Regions from separate parts of the Homo sapiens genome. Here region 1 is linked to region 2. The links come from fine-mapping of genetic effects on gene expression. A gene starts in region 2. The other region holds a variant in brackets. All regions are shown on one strand. Distances are from middle to middle. Region 1 overlaps LINC02828 (long intergenic non-protein coding RNA 2828). Region 2 holds the start of C6orf62 (chromosome 6 open reading frame 62).

The links. PIP is the estimated chance that this variant, and not a neighbour inherited with it, causes the effect.
Region 1: its variant is fine-mapped to the expression of C6orf62 in whole blood (INTERVAL, PIP 0.94).

What each region holds. Positions count from the first base shown.
Region 1 is chr6:24,748,110-24,751,024 of GRCh38, forward strand. It overlaps LINC02828 (long intergenic non-protein coding RNA 2828), which reads left to right. Exons shown (of 3, transcript NR_183315.1): 2 at 887-1,039. It also overlaps the pseudogene AP3S1P1. Among named protein-coding and RNA genes, the nearest start is that of LINC02828, 7.3 kb to the left of the region's middle. The variant A/T (reference allele first, on the strand shown) is at 1,365.
Region 2 is chr6:24,717,649-24,720,563 of GRCh38, forward strand. It overlaps C6orf62 (chromosome 6 open reading frame 62), which reads right to left and starts at 1,506. Exons shown (of 5, transcript NM_030939.5): 1 at 892-1,506. The coding sequence starts at 1,020. RefSeq lists an enhancer at 2,187-2,915 and a silencer at 2,550-2,719.

The DNA.
Region 1 (2,915 bases), 30 kb after region 2:
TCTCAAAGTCCGCTACTCCTCATCCTAGGCTTAATTCTTAACGCAGATGTTGTTTTCTCAATAGCGACATGTTCCCTGAAGGGAACGTTCACCTGCCATTTGGGTATTACAAGGAGTTGAATATGCTTTTCTCTTTTGATGCTTAAAAAATTAGATACAGATCTTTCAAGCAAGCAAAACAGACTAATTAGCTCTGTGAAGCATTATGGCTAGAAATCAATGTGTGTTGTCTGTATTTGACCTGTGAATAGGGTTTCTAATAGTCAACTTTAAATTAGCTGTAGAAATGGGGGAGATAGGACTTTATCATGGATAAATAACATCCTACAACTTCATAATAAAGAAAGACAACAGGCTGGGTGTAGTGGCTCATGCCTGTAATCTCAGCACTTTGGGAGGCCGAGGTGGGCGAATCACGAGGTCAAGAGATGGAGACCACCCTGGCCAACATGGTGAAACCCCGTCTCTACTAAAAATACAAAACTTAGCCGGGCATGGTGGCACGTGCCTGTAATCCCAGCTACTCAGGAGGCTGAGGCAGAAGAATTGCTTGAAGCCGGGAGTTGGAGGTTGCAGTGAGCCAAGATCGCACCACTGCACTCCAGCCTGGCGACAGAACGAGACTCCGTCTCAAAAAAAAAAAAAAAAAAAAAAAAGACAATATTCTGCTTCTTTCTCCATCAAATCTTGTCTCTAGGTCACTAACAAGCAAGATCATTTTTGCCTTTTACCTGCATTCCTTCTTCTGAATAGCCTCTGGGTGTGGTTTTATTAAAACTGCAAAAGCCGGAAGAACTATAACTGGAGGATCAAAATGAAGCAGTTCATGAAGCAGACATCCTCATGGGTTCTCTCACATAAAGAGTTTCTCTCCATCTTCTTACAGATACGTGAAATTCCGGTAATAAGGGACAAAATGGTTAAGCTCTTGATTTGAGACTAAGGATGGAGATGGGGCCATTTAGAATGCCCAGATTCAAGAGGCAAGTAGAAAGGAGAGTTGACGAAGGGTCCCGAGCAGGGACAGCTGGAAAAGCAGGTGAGTCAGAAGTGAACGATGCCCTGGCAGGAGGAACGGATTTCAAGATGGAGCTCAACAGTATGAAATATGCCAAAGAGAGGAGCCTGGCCTCTGTTGAGTTTCCCAGTCGTGAGGCTCCAGATGGTGCCAAGGTGAAGTTGTGTGGATGGCACACCACAGTCCAGTGAGGCCCACTGAGAGGGAGGAAGTAGAAACAGCAGTGTGGACTCTGCTTTGAGAAAGTGGGCTGTGAGAAAGAAAGAGACAGATGGTGGTAGCTGGAGATGAACATAAAGTTAAGAGAACTTCTCTCCTTTTTAAGAAGGCTATGTAAGGTTGCTAG[A/T]AAAAGGAACCCATGTATAGGAAGTCGGAAAACAAAACTAAAAACTCAGGAAGAGGGAGAGGAACTAGAAGAAGCAAGTGTCATAATGACTTTCAAATGGTTCAGTTTTTAAAAAACGATATACAGAGCGTTAAATAAATTTGTCAAGATGATGACAGTTGTTGAATCTAGGCAGAGAGTATACAGGCTTTCATAATAATATTCTTTCCATTTTCATATACATTTGAAAATTTTCAAAACAAAGGGGATGTGACAAATCTGTGGACCAGCCATATATGGTTGAAAATTTTCTTTTAAAAATATTGAGAGGTATCCAAATATAATGTGAACATAAAATTGCAACTGAAAAGTTATGATTAAATGTTCACAGCCATACCTAATCTAATGGACTGCAGATAATATTGTGTTATAGACCTATAAAAATTGTTTCACTTGAATTTTTGTATTGCAGTTTATTTAAACTAAGAAAAAAGGTCATGGCCAGGTGTGGTGGCTCATGCCTGTAATCCTAGCAATTTAGGAGGTCCAGGTAGGCAGATCACTTGAGGTCAGGAGTTCGAGACCAGCCTGGCCAACCCTGTCTCTACTAAAAATACAAAAATTAGCTGGACGTGATGATGCATGCCTGTAATCCCAGCTATTTGGGAGGCTGAGGCATGAGACTCTCTTGAACCCAGGAGGTGGTGGTTGCAGTGAGCTGAGATCGCGCCATGGCACTCCAGCCTGGGTGACAGAGTGAGACTCTGTCTCAAATAAATAAATAAATAAGTCATAATATTTTCACACAATATACACTTAGTTCTTTAAGTGACAATTGTCACAGATAGCAGAAAGACTTAAGGAATGCTGCACTTGTAATCCATACAAAATACCAATGTTTTGGGTGATACATAACGAAATATCACAAACACTTTTCAAAATATCATAGTAGCCAATATATAGGGAATGACTTTGGTGAGCATAGAAGTTTAGAAAAGAAAACAAATCACACTGGAACTATCTGATTTCTTTAAAAATCACTGAACAAGAAAAGGTACATTGAACTTCACATACCGATTTTATATAACTTCTGTACAGTACCTTGACTTAAATCCAAGAGCAAAAGTTAAGACTCTCCTTTAGTTTTGGTAAACAACTACAAGGTAAACTTGGATGACCTTTTCCCCTGGATTTTACTGAAAATAGTCTTTTACATTTTTTATCTAAAAGAGGGCAGGTTTGGCACTTTTATACCGATGTCACCAGTGTTAATGTTTCTTGGACTCTTGGGAGGGTTTATATTCTATACAGCTGATACAGCATGGGCTGCTAGGTTCCTGTAAAGCCAACCTTTGTTTTTTTCAGCTTATTTTGCACATTAATTTGTGTAACAAGCTCATTCTTGTTGGTCTCTGATCTGGTTTGACTCTGTGTCCCCACCCAAATTTCATCTCAAATTGTAATCCCCACAGGTCAAGGGAGGGACCTGTAATCCCCACATGTCAAGGGAAGGAGGTAATTGGATCATGGGGGAGGTTCCCCCAGGCTGTTCTCATGATAGTGAGTGAGTTC
Region 2 (2,915 bases):
AAACAGTAGGGGGAAACCTGGAAAACTTCCAGATACTTAATAGATACCACACTAAGATTGTATTTCTGATCTGAAATTAGCTAACAATTTAAGCACCAAAATCCAAGTAGCACTTCCTTACATTCATAACCTCATCTTTGGTCAAATAAGCCTTGCTGATAATTTAAGAAAATGTTCATTTTAAGTTGCAAAAAATACTGCTCTTATCATCCCATCCTTGACTACTCACAACTTACTGTTTGCTATTTAACTGCGGAACTAATTCTGATTAAGACCTCCACCGCCCCTAAAAATGAAACTTCCTCTAGGTCATTTTGAGTTTTTAAAAACTGTACTTCTATACAAGGCAAAATGAACTCTAAGTAAAAAAGAAAATCACACTTCTAAACACAAATTAACCATTTCAGTATTTAATTGCTCCTAAAAGGTGTATTCTACTTCATTAAATGTAAGAGAAAAGGTTACCTACATTACGCAGTTTAAGAAACAGGATAAACTTTAGCATATAAACAGTCTGATTACAATTTCACACTTTCAACCATCTTATTTATACTCTACATTAGATAATCTTTAAATTCCATCATAAGGTTTCCCATGTTAACTCCATATAAAATTTTGTAATCTTGCCCACCCCATGTCAACTCAGTGTATACTACTACTAAGCTTCAGACTCAAATTTATTTCCAAACCAAAGAACGCTCAAGGGTCTTTTCGCATGCTGCAACTGCTCAATTCACAGAATCACCCCTAAGGGTGAAAAAACAGAGCATACAAAGCAGACTTTTTTTCAACCACTCTTTAACCTAATATTCATAATAATTTAAGAGTAACAAATAATATACACTTACAAAAATTACTTGTGCTAATTCACCATTAAGAACTTTAAATTACCTTCTCCTTGAATACAAAGGCAATATACATCTTGAAGTCAAACTGGTCAGCTAGAGATTCTTTTTTCTTTCTAAGCTGAGCACGTAGTCTGTTCAGAGCTTGTTTCTTCCGGGAGTTTGGGTCCCCCATTTTGAAATACAGGTGGTACTAAAGCCTTTGGAAATTGTCACTAAACTATGGGCACTTTTTCTTAAGACTCAAGTACAACAGAAACAAGTCATTTTTTTTCCTGCTAATATGATTGATTAGCGAAAATCACGACTATAACCCAAAAACTGCACCTTCTGTCAATATTAGCAGACTGTCATATTACAGGGTCAAGAAACAAAAGCTGCTGTCCAGTCATGTTTGGACAATAACGTTTGGGGTCAGACGGGAAAAAGGGAGGAAAGAAAGGAAAGAAAGAGGAGAAAATAACTAACTTTCTGGAAAACACATTTGGCTTAACTGCCAAAATAAAGGCTTTGCGGAGAAATGAAAAGCCTATAATCAGGATTTAGGTGTGCAATAAAACACAGCTGACACCAGACCAATCCCTAAAATCCATCCGGATTTTCCCCCCTTTTTAGAAAAGGGATTAAGGAACAGGGAGGGGGAAGTGTGATCCTTGCTTTCCAAAAAAAAAAAAAAAAAAAACTCACCAAAACCAAAACCAAAACCAAACACCAAAACAGGGTAGGTGAATGAAACTGAAATATCCAATTAGATTTTACCCAGCCAGCTCCATGGCTGTAGTACCTAATTCTTAGTTATTTCAGATTTCACTATTGCTATGTATTGTCAGTGCTTGTTATTGATTACACTTGGTGGTGAGCATAGAGAAAAGTGCAAAATCGGTAGAGAAGGAAAGGGAGAGGTACAGGGTTTCCCTGCAATCAACTACAGTGTATACCGGGGGCGGGCAGCTGTGGCCCAAAGGAGCCATGAGAAAAAACAGCGGAGTCATTACCAACTTCCCCATCACCCACATTTTCACCCTCAGGCGGCTGCTAACGCTGCTGCCAAGGAGAATCATGACGGCAGAAGGAAAAGGGGTATATAATACGGTATTAATTATTCCGGCTCTGTGGTTAGACCTGATTAATGCCCGGGTTCCCAACACCCCCAGCCTGCAACTAGTCCTACATTCCCCAAGGGAGACTTCCCTGTGGATCTGCCCCCGTTCAAAATGGTGGGGAGTGCGATTTATCTTCTTGTGAGCATTGCCGAGGCAAAGGTGGCGGGTTCTTCTCCCAAATCCCAGGCGGTGCCCGGAGACCACCTGCCTTCCACCCCCGCAGGTCCCACCCCCACCCCTTGCCTTCAGCGGCAGCGACTCACTCGCACCACGGGAGACACAGGATCACTCAGGTTTTCACTCATTTCATCGTGGAAACAATTCCCGCCCGGGTGGAGTGGGCGGGAGAGGGTAAATGGGAAGGTTCAGTGGGGGAAAAAAAGAAAATAATTGTGTTAATATTACTTCTAAAGTAAGCCCACCCACCCTCCCCCCAAAAAATTAAGTTCCCGGATTAGCTCTCTCTCACGTTGAACAGACCATGTTTCCAGAGTTTGGATTGTTTAGGGTGGGGTCGTTAGTTGTTTCCCGAGGGGCAGGGGGTGGAATTGAGGCAGCTAGGGCGGGGTGGGTGACGGGGAAATCCCCTCCCTGTCCCCGCGGAGCCCGGGACTCACGGACCGACTCTAGGGCGGGGTTTGGGCCCTCTAGCCGCAGCCTGCGGGCGGAGCGGTGGCGGCGGCGGAAGAGGCGGCGGCGGCGGGGGCGCTGCTGGTAGCACGGGCAGGAGCCATGTCAAGAGAAAACCACCAGCCAACTGAGCCCCTCCATCCCCGCTGCAGTGCGCACCGTGACTGGACCGCCCGCGCTGCTGCCGCCGCTCAGCCCCCACCTGGGACCCATAGTCTGGCTCGGCGCCCTGGGCGGCAACGGAGGGGAAGGACGCGGAGACAGCGGCAACAGGGAGAGAAAAAGAAAAAGAGGAAAAACAAAGAGAAAGATGGGGAGTTGGATTGGTACTGGCGGC